Homo sapiens: one gene and its partners. The protein of the gene in region 4 interacts with the protein of the main gene of each other region in a pairwise test. Each region holds a gene or a part of one and is shown on either strand. Other genes may lie near its edges.

What was found.
Region 1: the proteins of KIF9 (region 4) and RBM5 interact in a two-hybrid assay, tested with the Homo sapiens proteins (one large-scale study listed by BioGRID).
Region 2: the proteins of KIF9 (region 4) and JAKMIP2 interact in a two-hybrid assay, tested with the Homo sapiens proteins (one large-scale study listed by BioGRID).
Region 3: the proteins of KIF9 (region 4) and ZNF566 interact in binary tests that used the Homo sapiens proteins (3 or more experiments, as listed by UniProt).
Region 5: the proteins of KIF9 (region 4) and ACBD4 interact in a two-hybrid assay, tested with the Homo sapiens proteins (one large-scale study listed by BioGRID and IntAct).

The regions. Positions count from the first base shown.
Region 1 is NC_000003.12:50,091,915-50,095,429, reverse strand, and holds part of RBM5 (RNA-binding protein 5), read right to left. Parts: intron 3,388-3,515; coding exon 3,222-3,387; intron 1,711-3,221; coding exon 1,555-1,710; intron 1-1,554. UniProt on the Homo sapiens protein: Component of the spliceosome A complex. Binds to ssRNA containing the consensus sequence 5'-AGGUAA-3'. Regulates alternative splicing of a number of mRNAs.
Region 2 is NC_000005.10:147,779,923-147,784,098, reverse strand, and holds the start of JAKMIP2 (janus kinase and microtubule-interacting protein 2), read left to right. Parts: upstream 1-1,370; 5' UTR 1,371-1,640; coding exon of another isoform or gene 1,641-1,643; intron 1,644-4,176.
Region 3 is NC_000019.10:36,479,555-36,483,069, forward strand, and holds part of ZNF566 (zinc finger protein 566), read right to left. Parts: intron 1-3,515. UniProt on the Homo sapiens protein: May be involved in transcriptional regulation.
Region 4 is NC_000003.12:47,276,286-47,279,800, forward strand, and holds part of KIF9 (kinesin-like protein KIF9), read right to left. Parts: intron 1,095-3,515; coding exon of another isoform or gene 1,090-1,094; coding exon 997-1,089; intron 1-996. UniProt on the Homo sapiens protein: Essential for normal male fertility and for progressive motility of spermatozoa.
Region 5 is NC_000017.11:45,134,324-45,138,493, forward strand, and holds the start of ACBD4 (acyl-CoA-binding domain-containing protein 4), read left to right. Parts: upstream 1-1,363; 5' UTR 1,364-1,630; exon of another isoform or gene 1,631-1,784; 5' UTR 1,785-1,821; coding exon 1,822-1,909; intron 1,910-2,176; coding exon 2,177-2,297; exon of another isoform or gene 2,298-2,368; coding exon 2,369-2,453; intron 2,454-2,695; coding exon 2,696-2,816; intron 2,817-3,044; coding exon 3,045-3,131; intron 3,132-3,398; coding exon of another isoform or gene 3,399-3,436; coding exon 3,437-3,507; intron 3,508-3,568; coding exon of another isoform or gene 3,569-3,589; coding exon 3,590-3,665; intron 3,666-3,952; coding exon of another isoform or gene 3,953-4,042; exon of another isoform or gene 4,043-4,170. UniProt on the Homo sapiens protein: Binds medium- and long-chain acyl-CoA esters and may function as an intracellular carrier of acyl-CoA esters.

The DNA of each region.
Region 1 (3,515 bases), 2.8 Mb from region 4:
AATGGGTAGTTCAATTTTCAACAAATAAAAGGGTGGCCAGATTATAAAGAAAATTAGGTATTTACCAATCATCCTCATCTAATAAGTAACTAATTCAATAAAAATATATTGATTATCTTCTAGGAGCTAATGAAGACAGAAGACCTGCTCCCTGTGGTTAAAGACATTTAGAAAACTCATACATTGAGCTTCAAAGCCTAAATATGGTAATTTACTTCTTTTTGTTTTTGAGACAGGGTCTTGTTCTGTCACCCAGGCTGGAGTGCAATGGCGTGATCTTGGCTCATTGTAAACTCCGCCTCCCAGGTTCAAGCCATTCTCCTGTCTCAGCACCTCCCCAAGTAGCTGGGACTACAGGTATGCACCACCACACCTAGCTAATTCTTGTATTTTTAGTAGAGACAGGGTTTCACCATGTTGGCCAGGCTGGTCTCAAATTCCTGACCTCAAGTGATCCACCCGCCTCGACCTCCCAAAGTGCCTGGGATTACAGGCATGAGCCACCGCGCCTGGCCAAAATGGTAACTTACTTCTGAACCTAGTTCAGTGAACTTTTCCCTAAAGACAGAAAAATATTTCACTAGCTGAGATAGATACAGGTTGAGCAACCCTAATCCAAAAATTTGAAATGCTCCAAAATCTGAAATTTTCTGAGCACTAACATGACACAACAAGTGGAAAATTCCACCCCTGACCTTATTTGAAAGGTCACAGACAAGAGGGCAGTCAAACCTTTTAGTCCAGGCAACATACTTAGCCCAGCCTGGCTCTACAAAAAATAAATTAGCTGGGTGTGGTGGCATGCACCTGCCAGCTACTGAAGTAAAAAGATCACTTGAGCCCAGGAGTTTGAGGCTGCAGTGAGCTATGATTGCATTGCTATACTCCAGACTGGGTGACAATGAGACCCTGCCTGTAAAAAACAGAAACAAAAATATCACAAACAAAAAAACAAAGCACACATTGTTTTGTGTATAAAATTATTTAAAGTGTTGGCCGGGCAAGGTGGCTCACGCCTGTAATCCCAGCACTTTGGGAGGCCGAGGCGGGTGGCAGGAGATGGAGACCACAGTGAAACCCCGTCTCTACTAAAAATACGAAAAAAGTTAGCCGGGTGCGGTGGCGGGCGCCTGTAGTCCCAGCTACTCAGGAGGCTGAGGCAGGAGAATGGCGTGAACCCGGGAGGCAGAGCTTGCAGTGAGCCGAGGTTGTACCACTGCACTCCAGCCTGGGTGACAGAGCAAGACTCTGTCTTAAAAAAAAAAAAAAAAAATTATTTAAAGTGTTGTATAAAATTACCTTTGGCATGTATAAGACATATACAAAATACAAATGAATTTCATGTTTAGACTTATGTAAATGCAAATGTTTAAACTTATGTAAATGCAAATATTAAAAAAAAATATCAAAACAGTTCTGGTCCCAAGCATTTTGGATAAGGGATACTCAACCTCTATTGGCTTAAGATAAAACAATAGCATGAGAAAATAATGGTAGAAGCTCAAAGTTCATTGTGCCTACTGACTGCTGGTTATAACTGTCATTTCCCCTTACATCGCTCTCTGTGATGGTGATGGGAAGGCCGCGCAGCATGATGGTCTTGCTCTCCCTCTCGTCACTGATGTCATGCCTATAGTCGTGCTCACCATAGTCACCATCTGAATGGTAGCCATCTTCGGATCGGTCACTGTTCCTTCTTTCACGCTCTCTCTGAGTTACAATAAACAAAATCACAATTAACATCACCCTGTACTCTTTGAAACAGACCCTCCACTCCTAGAAATTATCCTTAGCAGGAAGTGTACAGAGATTACACAAGCACTCCATGGTAATGTTCACTGCAATTTTTTTTTTTTGAGACAGGGGTCTCACTATGTTACCCAGGCTGGTCTGAACTCCTGGCCTCAAATGACCCTCCTGCTATGGCCTCCCAAAGTGCTGGGATTATAGGCACACCCAGCCTGCTGTGTTTTCTTTTTTTTTTTTTTTGAGACAGTTTCACTCTTATTGCCCAGACTGGAGTGCAGTGGTGCGATGATCTCTGCTCACTGCAACCTCTGCCTCCTGGGTTCAAGCAATTCTCCTCCTTCAGCCTCCCGAGTAGTTGGGACTATAGGCACTTGCCACCACGCCCAGCTAATTTTTTGTATTTTTAGTAGAGACAGGGTTTCACCATGTTAGCCAGGATGGTCTCAATCTTCTGACCTCATGATCCGCCCGCCTCGGCCTCCCAAAGTGCTGGGATTACAGGCGTAAGCCACCGTGCCGGCCTTCTGGTTTTTTTTTTTTTTGAGACAGAGTCTCCCTCTGTCGTCCATGCTGGAGTGCAATGGCATGATCTCAGCTCACTGCAACCACTGCCTCCCAGGCTCAAGCAATTCTCGTACCTCAGCCTCCTGAGTAGCTGAGGTCGCACCACTGCACTCCAGCCTGGGTGACAAGACTAAAAAGCTGTCTCAAAAAAAAAAAAAAAAAAAAAAAAAAAAGATATATCAAGATGACCAAAACAACAACTTATATTTATTATTTTTCATTATTATTATTTTAAAGACAGGGTCTCCCTATGGTGCCCAGGCTGGCCTCTAACTCCTGGGCTCAAGGGATCCTCCTGCCTCGGCCTCCCAAATTGTTGGGATTACAGGTGTGAGCCACTGTGCCTGGCCAACAACTTATATTTATCATTCATTTCAAAACACAGAACTAATATGTTATCATAACCCCATTGTTTCATCTTTAAAATGGGAATAACACCTACCTTATCAGGTTGTACTGAGACCTAAATGAATTCATGAAGTCAAGTGCTCAAAAGTACATGGTGATCCCTATGTAAACCCTGGCCATTATTTCTTTTCTTTTTTTTTTTTTTTTGAGATGGAGTCTTGCTTTGTCACCCATGCTGGAGAGCACTGATACAATCTCAGCTCACTGCAACCTCCGCCTCCCAGGTTTCAAGTGATTCTCTTACCTCAGTCTCCCAAGTAGCTGGGATTACAGGCGCCCACCACCCCACTCAGCTAATTTTTGTATTTTTAGTAGAGACGGGTTTTACTATGTTGGCCAGACTGGTCTTAAACTCCTGACCTCAAGTGATCTGGCCGCCTTGGCCTCCCAAAGTGATAGGATTATGGGAAGGGGCCACTGGACCTGGCTGCCTGGCTGTTATTTCTATTACTATAAGGCTCAGAGTGTTTTGGGGGGTTATACAGCCGCTGGTCACTCACCTCTGGACTGTCATAGTCTCGGTAGTCATCATATCTATCACCCCTCCGATCATCACTAGATCTTTTGTAATCTGAGTCCCTCCGCCTGCTTCGGGATTCACGCTCATCACGGTCATCCCTGTCTATGATGGAACCGTATCTTCCACTACGCTCTGTTCTACTCACTCTGCCAGGGAAAATAATTTTCATTCTAAAGTCAGTCACATTTTGTACCTTTAAAAGACATAGTTAAAAATACACACGGCCCACAGATCAGTTTATAAGATAATCCAAATAGTTTAAAGTGTTAAAAAG
Region 2 (4,176 bases), on a different chromosome or scaffold from region 4:
ATTTCCATTTTATGGAGGAGTGGCAGAAAAGTGTGGTGGTTAGGAGAGCAAATGTAAGTGTTAGAAGAGTCCATTTTGATTCCGGTTCTGTCGTTTATCAGTTGTGAATTTGGGAAATGTATCTAACTCCTCTGAGATTTACAATGTCCTCAAATATCAAGATGTAGAGAACACTTAATCTCTTAGGGCCTCTCTGTCTTTGCCATCATCATCATGGTTATTACGTACTTTGGATTTTCTCATCTTAATTTTTTCTCCTACCTGAAATTGCCATGTTATTCCCCTTAAACCCTTAGATTAAGAGATGGCTGCAATGTACTACTATGCTGCTAATAGTAAATATTTATTGTACACTTACTATATGCCAAGTGCTTTTAGTGCATTATCTCATTCAATCTTTACAACCCCTCCACGAGATAAATACTGGTGTCATCTATAATTTATAGTTAGAAACAGAACTCGCCTAGAACTGGACATTGCTGATTTCACTTCCCCCTTTTCCTGCCCACCACCCTGACTGCCAACTGACTTCGGAACTCCAAAAAGGCATCCATGAAAACGACAGGAATTGCCTGCAGGAAATTGAATGCTCCAGGAGTTTGACACTAAAAAGATTGGGAACTGTCCACCAACTTGTGCTACCGAGAATAGTGGTTGTTGAAAGGAATTTCGGTCTCTATCCAAACTTACTTTTCCTCAGGGATGTGTCAATTACCTCCAAGTCCTGTTCAGAAGGGTAGCTGGAAAAACAGTGAAACCAAGTAACTCACCTGAGAACAAGCCGGGAGTAGTGCAAAGGAATCAACCAGACTCTTAATTTATTACAAAGTCCAGCCACTCCGTTTGCTTTCTAAAAACCTTGTTGCCTGGTATTGAGTAAAAGATGCTATAAAGGACGAACACGTTTGGAAGTAATAATAATCTGCTATTATGCGACATAATTTTCTCCACATTTGTTGTTATTTTTCTGATAATAAATTTCATACTTTTTATTGGAAAACCACAGAAAATGCAAAAAATAGCTAAGCCGTTGGTATGTTTCTATCTAGATTTCAATTAAATTTTAATTATTCTCTCCCCGTGCCTAGCCCCCCTTGCCCCATTTTTAAAAAGACCTGGAGTTCAGGGTAGGAGACATCAAGAGCATCCTAGAGGGCAGCAGCACAAATTCACTCCCCTCCAGACCCTGCAGCTTGCTTCGCCCATCTCCCCTCCCCCTGAGCTTGGTCGCTTATCATTGGTCATTGCCATGGCAACCAGCAGCTGCCGGGCCAGCAGCCTCTACCGCAGCAGGGGTGGGGCACTGGGGGAGGGGGAGAGAGAGAGGAGGAGCCAGAGGAGGTGTCTGCTGCAAGTTCCTGGCTGCTTCCGAGCTCACCCCATCCTCCGAGAGGGAGGAGGCCCAACTGGTGATGCTGCTGCTGCTGCTGCTGCCGCCGCCGCCGCCTCTATTGCTGATACTCTAGTGGGGCTGGAAGGGTGGTTCCTATTCGCACCATCGCCAACCAGAGACAGAGGGAAAAAAAAAACCGGCAGCCACTGCTGATGTTGGGTTCGGAGGCTGCATCCGACTCGGTCACAAGGAAAATGGATTCAGTTTGCATCTCTCCCTCCTTTAAACAGCTTCTCCGGGTCTCAGCATGGTGAGTAGGAAACAGTAGGGCTCCCTTCTTGGTTTAGAGTGTTCTTATTTGACCTGTGTATACATTTCTGGCCTGAACTTGAACAATGACTCCCGTGCCTCAGACTAGAAGGGGGAGATGTGGAGACAGAGATGAGGATGGAGGGAGAGGAAGCTTGCCAGGAAGAGAGAAGTGAGAAGACAACCTCTTGTGTTTAAAAAAAAAAAATGGTGTTCTGATTTTATCTCTAACTGGCTCAGAATGCAGACTGAGCCACTTGGTGCCTTTTTTCCTAAGCTTAGCAACAGCATCAGGGGTTGGAAAAAGAGCTAACAACAAGAAGAGGGTGTTATTGAAAGGAATCATTTCATTTGCAGCTCTCACATACAGGGTTGGGCCTTCTTCAGAAATACATTTGGTGTCTCATAAGCTTACCAGACTCATTATAAGGTGGTTTTGCTTATTTTATTGATTGCTTAGAAAAAGTGGCCCCAGAATTTGACATTTTATTTTATATTCTAATATACTCTTGTTGAGAAATCATTTGCAAGACCCAGTTTTATTTTATACGTAGATTTGACTGTGAACTTACACATGTATATCTTATGGATATACAGATCATATATACACATGTCACTTAGCATTTATATTGCATTTATGAAGCATATTTATATGTAGGGTGTGCTTTGCAACCATTTTTATGGGTTACATATGTCCTTGCATGCCTGGAAGTAATTGCATGTTTTTGAAACTATGCTTCTGGTTTATATTATTATTCATTGGCTTTATTTGGATTAATGTGAAATTTACTCTGGTTATTGTCCCTTAGTTTCATTGTGACCGATTGGAACAGATGCCTATCGTTTGATCTGTGTCATAGAACTAGATGCAAATTTGTAGCCTGCCTCTTTATTTTTAATTGGGTTTGTGGGGGATGATATTGAGGACTCTGAATTTACAATGATGGGAATGGGAGGCGGTTTGTGGTATTATTTTGTGTCTAGCATCTTACCAAATCAATGTTGAAGCAAATCAGTTTTCTTGAAATGCCACCCCAACCTTTTCATGTTTGTGCCTTGTGTCCCAGGAAGCACAGCTAAGCTGGAAGGTGAAATGTATTCATTTTATTTAATAGTGCTGCTATCTGATGTTCATTCCTTCAGTATCCAGGAACCATTTCACAGTTCTCTCAGATGTTGTATTAAGGGTCTCCTTCTGTAAATAATTAAGTAGGAAAGTAGGATTGTTTTGAAAATCTAGGTATTCCCAAGCACCCTAGCCCAGCCGTTTCCAAATTAGTCTGCTTATACAATGAAATGAAACCAGAGAGTGAGCAAAGCGAGCAGGAGAATGTGTGGCTTGTAGCTGAAATGGGGGTCTATTGTAATTTACAAATGCTTACTGGGATCTGCTTGACCTTTTATTATGTCAAGGCTTTAAGGCAGTTCAGGAGACTAAAGATGCGTGAGATGAGGAGGTTCCATTCCCGCCCAGGATAATGGATTTCATTGAATTAAAGCCAGAAAAAATTATGTAGGTAAAGTGTATTAGTAATATTACATTTACCACATGGGCTATTATAGTTTTATCCATTATTCTCTTCTCTAACAATATCATTGTCAGTACAGACATTTTTTACAATGTAAAATAACAATTGTTTGGGTCTTTAGTCTTGCATCTGATTCTACATACACCCCCCACATTTATAATTTTCACATGTATTTGAACCAGGTTTATAGTTTAATTTTGCTGAGAATAATTGTTCTATTTGGTTTATACATGAGAAGGGCCCTTGGTGACTCAATTGTGCATGTGCTCATAGCATGTTATATATTATAGATCCATAGCTTTGTAAACTCATGCTACTTTGTGCCTAATTTTAACAACTATATGAAGTAGGGCAAGGAAAGAGGTACTGGGCTTGTATGTTATAACAAATTGTATAACACATTGCATCCTGAATCTTTTAGTGATAACACTTGACTTCCAAAAATTAAAATGTTAGATATGCCTATAGCACACTTAAAAAATTAAGATTTGTACTAGTTGACCCCATTTCATGCAATGAAAGCAGATATCCTGGGGCTTTGTTTTTGTTTCTTTTTTTTGAGTTTTCATTTGGAGGTGGTTTTATAGGCAAAGTTGGTACAGTTTGAACAGAGGCAAATCCCTTAGGCCATGTGCTTAAAACTCCTTGTAGATAGCCTGTTTCAGCTATGTGTCAGCTATTACCCTGATAGAAATACAGGTCTAGCTTTTGACCCCACTATTTAAGACAATTATATGGCCTTTGCTAAGGGGCCATAGAAAAGTGAAGTGTGTTTCAAGCACTAGAAGTTGAACTCTCTGAGGAAAGATTTTTAAAAGCTAGGATCATTTCATTTAGAGAAGAGAAAAATGAAATATGGCAATCGTTTGTTTCAGATAAGCTAAGCATGGGGCATAAGCACAGGACATTGCTTATTGCTATTTTTTGGAACCTCAAATGTAGTCAATGGGCTTCAACTTTATGAGGAATTATGAAGATGAGAAATATGCAAATGTAGAAGTTCCT
Region 3 (3,515 bases), on a different chromosome or scaffold from region 4:
TAAGGATCTTAACAAATGTCGACATATACCATATGTACTATAGATTGAATATTGATGTCAATTCTCCCAAAATGAACACAGTTTTTGTTTTTGTTTTTGAATCAGGGTCTTGCTTTGTTACCCAGGTCGGAGTGCCGTGGCACGATCAAAGCTCGCTGTAGCCTCAACCTGTGGGGCTCAAGGGATTCTCCCACCCCAGCCTCCTGAGAAGCGAGGAGTAGAAGCACGCCATCAAGTCCAGCTAAATGTTTGGGGTTTTGTTTCTTTGTTTGTTTGCGTGTTTGCTTGGTTTTAGTTGTTTTTTTGTTTTTGTTTTTGTTTTGGTAGAGACAGGGTCTCACTGTGTTGCCCAGGCTTGTCTTAAACTCTTGGGCTCAAGCAATCCTCCAGCCTTGGACTCCCAAAGTGCTGGGATTACAGGTGTGAGCCACTGCATCAGGCCCCAAAATGAACACATATATTTGTAAAGAAAACCCCAGCAAGGCTTTGGGGGGAATAAGGTAAAAATTAGCAAGTTGATTCTAACATTTATTTGGAAATTAGAAGAGCTTATAATAGCCGAGATAGCTTGGAAAAGAAAAAAAGTAGGAGGACTAAAACTACAGATTTCAAGACAGCAGTACAGACAAAACAATAAAACCAAATAGAATATAGAGTCCAGAAAGAGAGCCACATAACCACATGTATATACTGTCACCTGATTTATGACAAAGACTCCATGCAATTTTTTTTTCTTTTTTTTTTTTTTGAGACAGAGTCTCACTCTGTCACGCAGGCTGGAGTGCAGTGGCAAGATCTTGGTTTACTGTAACCTCTGCCTCCCAGGTTCAAGCAATTCTCCTGCCTCAGCCTCTGGAGTAGCTGGGATTACAGGTGGCTGCCACCACACCCGGCTAATTTTTGTATTTTTAGTGGAGACAGGGTTTCACCATGTTGGCCAGGCTGGTCTCAAATTCCTGACCTCAGGTGATCTGCCTGCCTCGGCCTCCCAAAGTGCTGGGATTACAGGCGTGAGCCACCTTGCCCAGCCTCCATGCAGTTTAGATGGGCAAGGACAATCTTTTCAATAAACAGTGCTGAAACAACTAGGCACCCAACTGGAAAAAAAAAAATTAACCTTTACCCCATACATAAGAATTAATTTAAGAGGGATCACAGACTTAAGTGTGAATGTGAATGTTTAAAAGCTTCGGGGCCAGGCGTGGTGGCTTATGCCTGTAATCCCAGCACTTTGGGAGGCCAAGGCCCACCAAGGCAGGCGGAACACCTGAGGTCAGGAGTTCGAGACCAGCCTGGCCAACATGTTGAAATGCTGTCTCTACTAAAAATACAAAAAAAATTAGCCGGGCATGGTGGCAGACGCCTGTAATCCCAGCTACTCAGGAGGCTGAGGCAGGAAAATCGCTTGAACCCAGGAGACAGAGGTTGCAGTAAGCTGAGATCACACCACTGAACTCCGGCCTGGGCAACAAGAGTGAGACTTCGTTTCAAAAAAAAGCACTAGTCATAAAAGACAAAGTACTAAATAAATATCTGCTACAAAAATGGGGAAAGACATAAACAGGCAATCTTTTAAAAGACTCTGAAATGTTCAAACACACTCATAATGAGAGAAATAAGAAAACAACAATGAGGGCTGGGCACAGGGGCTCATACCTGTAATCTCAGCACTTTGGGAGGCCGAGTCTGGTGGATCACCTGAGGTCAGGAATTTGGGACCAGCCTGGCCAACATGGTGGAACCCCATCTCTACCAAAAATACAAAAATTAGCTGGGCGTGGCGGCACGCGCCTGTAGTCCCAGCTACTCAGGAGGCTGAGGCAGGAGAATCACTTGAACCCAGGAGGCGGAGGTTGCAGTGAGCCGAGATCGCGCCACTGCACTCCAGCCCCGGCAACAGAGCAAGACACTGTCTCGGGAAAAAAAAAAAAAAAAAAAAAAGAAAAGAACACTGAGGTACTATTTCTCATCTATTAGACTGGTGAAAACTAAAAAACATGACAACATATTCTGTTAGGTGGGCTGTGAAGGGAAACAGACATGCTCATACACAGCAAGTAGGAATAAAAACTGGTACAACAGTTCTAGAGAGGAATTTTGCAATACTTAACAAAACTACAAAGCACTTACCTTTTGACCCAGCAATACCGCTTCTAGGAATCTACCCTAAAGATACTCCTCCAGCAATAGAAAAATACATATATACAAGGTTATTGCAGCACTGTTTCTAGTAACAAAATATTGTAAATGACCTAAATATCCATACGTAGGAAAGCGGTTCAATAAACTATGATAAATCCACAGGCTGCAGTATTATGTAACAATTAGAAAAGAATTATGAATATCTCTTTAACTGCCTGAGTGTTATCCAGAATGTATCATTAAGAGAAAGAAACAATGTACAAAAGAGTGCCTAGAGAATGCTATCTTTAATGTAAAAAGAATATAGGTAACTCTTCATTTGTGCAAAAGAAACACAGCAAGGATAAAGCAGAAACGAATGAAGTTGAATATATACAAGGAGTCTGTGGGAACTAAGTTAATTTTTATTTATTTATTTATTTATTTTGAGACGGAGTCTCGCTCTGTCGCCCAGGCTGGAGTGCAGTGGCGCGATCTCGGCTCACTGCAAGCTCCGCCTCCCAGGTTCACGCCATTCTCCTGCCTCAGCCTCTCCAGTAGCTGGGACTACAGGCGCCCGCCACCACGCCCGGCTAATTTTTTGTATTTTTAGTAGAGACGGGGTTTCACCGTGTTAGCCAGGATGGTCTTGATCTCCTGACCTCGTGATTCGCCGGCCTCGGCCTCCCAAAGTGTTGGGATTACAGGAGTGAGCCACTGTCCCCTGCGAATGTTTTCACATTCAAAATAGTGTAGCCTGCTACAATCAACCAGGATGTGGGGGAACCCAAAATGCAACAAATGATCCTTAAATGTAAGAAAAATGTAAGAAAAAAAAAAAACATACTGAAAAGAGTGGCAAAGAAAAGAACTAAATTGAGTAACTTTGGAAGATGTTTGTTTACTATATACTATAAGCTTAAAGAAAAAGAGCTACACAGAGATTCTCTACTGTAGTTACTAAATACTTTTTACACAGGTCCAGGTTGGCAACTCTGAACTAATTTGCATGTATTCTAGGATAGAGCTAATTATTGATTCTGAGAAGCAGGTTTCTCTCTGTTGGAAAATGAAGTAACAAGGAAATGGCCAAATTTGATGGGAGACAATTCTCCATGGGTCTTGCATGTTTCTGCGTATCTTGCAAGAAGAGGTACTAAGTGTTTTTGTTCTGCACTATTTTACCAAGTTGTTTATACAGTGAACAGCCTTGGAAGACAGAGTCGGTCTCCTTCTACAGCAAAGGGTAGGCATTCTAACTATCCATTATAAAAAATTCAGGTTTCCTAAGGTCAAGGGAACACACAGATACCTGTGTATTTTGCATAATCCTGGGTGTATGACTGAATCAGTACCATGAGAATGTAGATATTCTGAAGATTGCCATGAGCAAC
Region 4 (3,515 bases):
TGGCTCACGCCTGTAATCCCAGCACTTTGGGAGGCCGTGGCAGGTAGATCACCTGAGGTCAGGAGTTCCAGACCAGCCTGGCCAACATGGCAAAACCCCGTCTCTACTAAAAATACAAAAATTAGCCAGGCATGGTGGCACGTGCCTGTAATCCCAGCTACTAGCAGGGCTGAGGCAGGACGATCGCTTGAACCTGGGAGGCGGAGGTTGCAGTGAGCCAAGATTGTGCCACTGTACTCCAGCCTGGGCAACAGAGTGGGACTCTGTCTCAAAAAAAAAAAAAAAAAAAGAAAAGAAAGAAAGAAAGACTTGGTCCACTCACACATTAAATGCTCTGTGCTTCTGTGTTCGCTGAAAACCATGTCCAGCAGGACACATTTGATAGGGCTGCATGTGAGCTCTTTTCTGACCGCTAGGACCTGCGAGGCTTGGGCAGTTTGCCCTTGAATTTTTCCTTTGAAGAATGTCTCAATGCTGCCCAGAGTAGGCCCATAATTGTTTGCTGAATGAAAATATCTAACACTCTTACACTGTCCTAAGCCTTCAGAAGCATTCTCAGGGTGAGGATATAGGGACGGATATATCTTTCCACTTCTCTTGATAAGTATTTCTCCAGCTGTTTTGATAAGCTAAACAGTAATGAACTCAAGATATTCTTACTGCACCCCATGGGCGATTATACAATGACAGATCAATCATTAGAAAGCTTTATGAATGTGAACAAATGTCAATTCTTCTGTGTCAGATACGAGGGTAAAGGTAAACTTATTAATTTATTAAAGGTAAAATTATTAAAAGACAATTAACGATGGGATTTTATTAATTTCTTCATTAGCAGTGTGTGAGGGGGTGGTTTGGATTTGATGGGCTCTAGAGTCCATTGGATCCTGTCCAATTCTGTCTTGGTCCTTCAAAGGTTGCTTGGAAATACGGTCACACTATAGCAAGGTGGGACAGAGAGGCCCAGTCAGTTGAAGGCAAACACATCGCACTTACTCTTTTGTCATCTCCGTATCTGATCATTTCATGAGCAAAGTCATCGGTGGGTTTGACACGGACAAATGCATGAACTTTTTTCCTAGTACCCATTCTAGCTAAAAAGAAGGGAACAATGAAATTTTGAGTAGTCATTATCAAATAACAAGTAGAGGAGAGGGGTCATTCATTAAGAAGATCAGAAAAGAGTGACGAGCAGTCCATTTTTCCCTCTCTCCCTGAAAGCCAGTTTTCCTTTTCACCCCTCAGCATTTCAGTGTTCTACCCACAAGACACTGCTCAACAAATACACGCACTTTCTGCTTCACAGACTGCTTTGCCATTTTCCACCAATGACCCCAGAGAGACTGAAATACAAAGTGAAAAGAATGCTTCCTTTAGTGGCCTAATCTTAGATGTCATTTCTAGAAATGTTCTGCAACTAAGATGATGAGTCCACTTATGCTTTCCTTCATTTATTATATTTTCTTCTAAAATACTTACTATGAAATACATTAAAACTAATTTTCTTTTCATTAACTTATCTTGCTTCAGATACAGCATCCTCTTCTCCAGTAGACTAACTAGATCAGAAATAGATGACCCAGACGTATATTTGGTCCATAATAAATATTCTTTCTTCTCTTACTATATTGAGAAAAAATATCACAGACAGTCCCCTACCTCCTCTTGCTCTCCTAAAACCTAACTATATTCTCATCATTTTCTTTCAGTGTGTGTGTGTGTGTGTATGCGTGTGCATATACATATATATAGTAGTATAAATAAAGGAAGACATAGGACATATATACATACATTTTTTTTTTTTGAGACAGAGTCTCACCCTGTCACCCAGGTTGGAGTGCAGTGGTGCTATCATGGCTCAATGCAGCCTTGACCTCCCAGGCTTAAGTGATCCTCCTGCCTCAGCCTCCCCAGTAGCTGGGACTACAGGTGCGTACCACTGTGCCCGGCTAGTTTTCTTACATTTTTTTTGCAGAGATGGCGTCTTACTATGTTGCCTAGGCTGGTCTTGAACTCCTAGCCTCAAGTGATCCTCCTATCTTAGACTTCCAAAGTGCTGGGATTACAGGCATACCCAGCCGATGTTCAATATTTTTTAAAAAATTAACATTTATTTCATTGTTTTATTTTTGGAGACAAGGGTTTCTTTATGTTGTCTAGGCTAGCCTTTAACTTCTGAGCTCAAGTGATTCTCCCATCTCAACCTTCCAAGTAGCTAAGACTACAGGCGCATGGCTTGGCTTTAAAAAAAAACTAACTTTTGGCTGGGTGCAATGGCTCATACCATAATCTTAGCACTTTGGGAGGCCGAGGTGGGCAGATCCCTTGAGGCCAGGAGTTTGAAACCAGCCTGGGCAACATGGCGAAAACCCATCTCTATAAAGAATACAAAAATTAGCCAGGCAGCCAGGTGCGGTGGCTCAGGCCTGTAATCCCAGCACTTTGGGAGGCCGAGGCAGGTGGATTACCTGAGGTCAGGAGTTCAAGACCAGCCTGGCCAACATGGTGAAATGCCATCTCTACTAAAAATACAAAAATTAGCTAGTTGTGGTGGCAGACGCCTGTAATCCCAGCTACTCAGAAGGCTGAGGCAGGAGAATCGCTTGAATCTGGGACGTGGAGGGTGCAGTGAGCTGAGATCGCGCCATTGCACTTCAGCCTGGGCGACAGAGAGGGACTCCATCTCCAAAAAATAAATAAATGAATAAATAAATAAAATAAATAAATTACCAAGCATGGTGGTGCATGCCTATAGTCCCAGCTACTCAGGAGGCTGAGGTGGGAGAATCACTTGAGCCTGGGGAAGCTGAGGCTGCAGTTAGCTTTGATCATACCACTGCACTCCAGCCTAGGTGACAGAGTGAGACCATATCTCAAAAAAAAAAAAAAAAAAAAAACTAACGTGGGCCAAGTGCGTTGGCTCTTGCCTGTAATCCCAGCACTTTGGGAGGCTGAGGATGGCAGATTACCTGAGGTTAGGAGTTCAAGACCAGCCTGGCCAACATGACGAAACCCTGTTTCCACTAAAAAAAAATACAAACATTAGCTGGGTGTAGTGGCAAGCGCCTGTAATCTCAGCTACTCAGGAGGCTGAGACAGGAGAATTGCTTGAATCTGGAGGGTGGAGGTTGCAGTGAGCCAATGTCATGCCACTGCACTCCAGCCTGGGTGACAGAGCAAGCTCAGTCTCAAAAAAAAAAAAAAATCAAAAAATCTAAGTAACTTTTAAGATGTTAACCATAAAAACCCCTCATGTATAACAGGGACTACTTTTAATTAGATTATCTTGCTTTTTTAAAAAGTACATTAAATAATGGTAATATTTTATTTTATTTTATTTTTTTTTTTTGAGGCAGAGTCTCGCTCTATCACCCAGGTTGGAGCGCAGTGGCGCCATCTCAGCTCACTGCAAGCTCCGCCCCCCAGGTTCACGCCATTCTCCTGCCTCAGCCTCCCGAGTAGCTGGGACTACAGGCGCCCGCCACCAAGCCCCGCTAATTTTTCTGTATTTTTAG
Region 5 (4,170 bases), on a different chromosome or scaffold from region 4:
TAAATTGGCCGGATGCGGTGGCTCACGCCTGTAATCCCAGCACTTTGGGAGGCAGAGGTGGGATGATCACTTGAGGCCAGGTATTGAATGAAGACCAGCCTGGGCAACATAATGAGACTTCTGCCTCTACAAAAATTGTTTTTAAAATAATTAATTTAAAAAGATACAATAGGCCGGGCGCGGTGGCTCACGCCTGTAATCCCAACACTTTGGGAGGCCGAGGTCGGCGGATCACGAGGTCAGGAGATCGAGACCATCCTGGCTAATATGGTGAAACCCCGTCTCTACTAAAAAATACAAAAAATTAGCTGGGCGTGGTGGCGAGCGCCTGTAATCCCAGTTGCTCGGGAGGCTGAGGCAGGAGAATGGCGTGAACCCGGGAGGCGGAGATTGCAGTGAGCCGAGATCACGCCACTGCACTCCAGCCCGGGAGAGAGTGAGACTCCGTCTCAAAAAAATAAATAAATAAAATAAAATAAACAAAATAAAAAGATACAATAAATTATTGGTAACTATAATCGTTGTATTGTGCTACCGAACACTGGATCTCATTCATTCTAACTGTATTTTTGTACCCATTTCCCCCCCTCCCCAGTACCCTTCCCAGCCTCTGGTAACCATCATTCTGCGATGTCCATTTTGCTTACTCTTTTTTTTTTTTTGAGATGGAGTCTCACTCTCGCCCAGGCTGGAGTGCAGTGGGGCAATCTTGGCTCACTGCAATCTCCACCTCCCGGGTTCAAGCGATTCTCCTGCCTCAGCCTCCCGTGTAGCTGGGATTACAGGCGCGCGCCACCACGCCCGGCTAATTTGTGTATTTTTAGTAGAGATGGGGTTTCACTATGTTGGCCCGGCTGGTCTCGAACTCCTGACCTCAGGTGATCCGCCCGCCTTGGCCTCCCAAAGTTCTGGGATTACAGGCATGAGCCACCGTGCCCGACCATCTTCCAAAACTGAGCTGTGATGTCCTTCCTCTAGAACACCTGACCACAGGACATGACTTTTTTTAATCCCCAGTGCCTAAGTGTCTAGAGAGCTGAGTGGGTTGCCTCGGATCGGCCAGGCCTGGATATCAGCGAACAGATGCGGATTTCCACCAGGGGGCGCTAGGACGCCACGACCTTTCACTATGTGCACCAGGGGGCGCTGCCGCCCGCCTTGGCCATCCCGGGCTGGGAAGTCCGACCCTTCGATTAAGCCCCGCCTGATTGGGAAAGGCTCTGAGAAACTATTTGCATGATCTTGAAAGAGCTGTGCTGAATGGTTGAGGTAGGTAAGCCGAATGTGAAACAGGCTCTCTCATTGGCCTAAATTCCCCCCCTCGATCTGCGTCGCCATCCCGGCCCTGCTGGACCCCGGGGTCAGTAGGAAGCCGCGGGGTGGTGGCGAGAGAGGACCCAGGTGTCCTGGCAGTGGGCGCCGCGGGGCACACGCTGGGCCAAGGTGCAGGCGGCCAGGGTGGGAGACTGTTCGCCCCGCCCTGAGTACTCCTATCTTGTTTCTCCACCTGTTCGGGAGTTGGAGATGTGCACCTAAAGGAGGCGCATCTGGGGACGGACACATCTGGCACTGAGGCCCTCGCCACCTGCCTCGCCACCTGGCGACCCTGACCCCACCACACTGCCTTGAGGTAGGAAAAGGAGGCTCCTCAACCACAACTTCTGACCTCCCAGGGTGTCTGAGGCCTCTAAAGAGCTTAGTTTGCCCCTCTGGGAAGTGAATCCTTGGCTTATGGTGCCGGGGGGACCCTGGAGGCCCCCTCACACGAAGGCTGCTTCTTGCAGAGTCGCTCAAAAGTAGGGCCCCAGGGCTCGCAGCAGCATGGGCACCGAGAAAGAAAGCCCAGAGCCCGACTGCCAGAAACAGTTCCAGGCTGCAGTGAGCGTCATCCAGAACCTGCCCAAGAACGGTGAGGCTGCGGGGACTCGCATTTGGACTCGCATTCAGGACGCCTGGGGTCTGACTCTGAAGAAAGAATGGTCCTGATCACTGCAGTTTTTGCAGACAAGCCCCTGCCTGGGCTGTCCTGGGGGTTCCCTCCGCTTCCTATCCTAGTCCAGATGCCCTGGGTGGGACCCATCACCACCTCTGCCCTTTCCAAGCAGGGTTCTCCCGCCCCTCCGCCCCTTGGAGCTGGGAGTGATGCTTTGCCCTGGCTTCCCAACTCTCTGCCCAGGTTCTTACCGCCCCTCCTATGAAGAGATGCTGCGATTCTACAGTTACTACAAGCAGGCCACCATGGGGCCCTGCCTGGTCCCCCGGCCCGGGTTCTGGGACCCCATTGGACGATATAAGTGGTGAGCTCCCTGCTGGCTGGGCAGACAAGCCTCAGCTGTCAAGCAGCCCTCTCACAGCCCTCTGCCCCCAGGGACGCCTGGAACAGTCTGGGCAAGATGAGCAGGGAGGAGGCCATGTCTGCCTACATCACTGAAATGAAACTGGTGGCACAGAAGGTAAGGGCTGCAGGTTCTCTGTCCCCAGGCTCCTGGCCAGGTGGCCTCACCCTTCCAGTTCTGACCCCCACTACGTTTCCTACACATGGACCCCCTCATGGGAATCACCACCTTCATGTTACCCCCAACCCTGCCTATCTTTGGCCCCTGACTGGGCACAGGGTGGAGGTGTGTGACAGGGCAGGAGCAGGGAGGAAGGGACAGGAGGCCACTCCGTCCCCAACAGACCCCCTCCCCTACAGGTGATCGACACAGTGCCCCTGGGTGAGGTGGCAGAGGACATGTTTGGTTACTTCGAGCCCCTGTACCAGGTGATCCCTGACATGCCGAGGCCCCCAGAGACCTTCCTGAGAAGGGTCACAGGTCAGACTCCCAGGCTGGGAGCTCCAAAAGTGCTGAGTGAACCGTCTTAGGTCTAGGCTGAGGTGGGCTGGGGGCAGAGGGCTCCAGGCGACATCCCTGTTAGGGCCCCCAAGCCCCCGAGAGGTGGATCCCAGGCAGCATCCACGGCTCATCACGAGTAGGGGCTTGATCACACTGGGAGGTGCCAGCCTCTCCCCAGGCCCACCTCTGGGTGCTGTGTCTTGGCAGGTTGGAAAGAGCAGGTTGTGAATGGAGATGTTGGGGCTGTTTCAGAGCCTCCCTGCCTCCCCAAGGAACCGGCACCCCCAAGCCCAGGTTAGTGCTTGAGCAGGAGGGGTGGACCAAACTCAGGCTGGGGGAGGGCTGGAGGGGAGAAGGCTGGATGCCACGCTGTGCCCTCCACAGACACTGAGACTTCCTGTGCTCCCAAAGGTGGGGACCGGGGTCTAGGATTCCTGTTCCAGGGCCTTGCTTCTGGCGCCCATCTGTGCCTCAGGTGTTGATATCTCTAGTGCCTCGTATCTCTAGTGTCTCCTAAACAGGTGCTTCTGCCCAGTGCACACTCCTGCTCTCCCTCCACAGCTTCCCTCTGGGCAGTAACTCTACCAACCCCTCCACAGAGTCCCATTCACCCAGGGACCTGGACTCCGAGGTTTTCTGTGATTCCCTGGAGCAGCTGGAGCCTGAGCTGGTGAGCCCAGTCCCCATTCCCCCCTTTTCCCACCCCACTGTGCTCCCACTCCCACCCTCAGCTCTCTGACTCATCTCAGCAGGTTTGGACAGAGCAGCGGGCAGCATCTGGAGGAAAGCGTGATCCCAGGAACAGCCCCGTGCCCCCCACAAAGAAAGGTGAGCTCCTACCCAACCTCTCACCCACTTCTGCCCTTTCCCGTGGTCCTGGCACCCCAGGCTTTCTCTTGGCTGCCTTCCTAGGGCAGAGTTGAAAGTCCATTGCTGGGCACTGAGCGAGAAGCCTCTGTCCAGGAAGGGCTGCCAACCAGCCAGATACCTGCCTGGATGGGCAAAGTCCCCGCCCTCCCTCCTCTCCCCAAAGGGCACCCAGGAGTCTGCACCCTCTGCAGGTCCTGAGTAAGGCCAGCGGGATGGGAGTCCTAGCCCAGTTCTCCCACCTACAGCTGCACAGCCTCAGGAAGTCATCCATATTCTCTGGACTCCCCCGTTTGGAAATCTCAGAAGACAATGAGTTCTGCCCTCTTCCCTTCTAGAACTCCTGTTGTGTGTCAGGTCCTGTATGGACATTTTGAAAAGTTTCTCCTTTTTTCCTCTGAGCAAGCAGCCCTGTGAGAGAAATGACATCTTCTCCTAATTTTTAGATGACAAAATGATGCCCAGA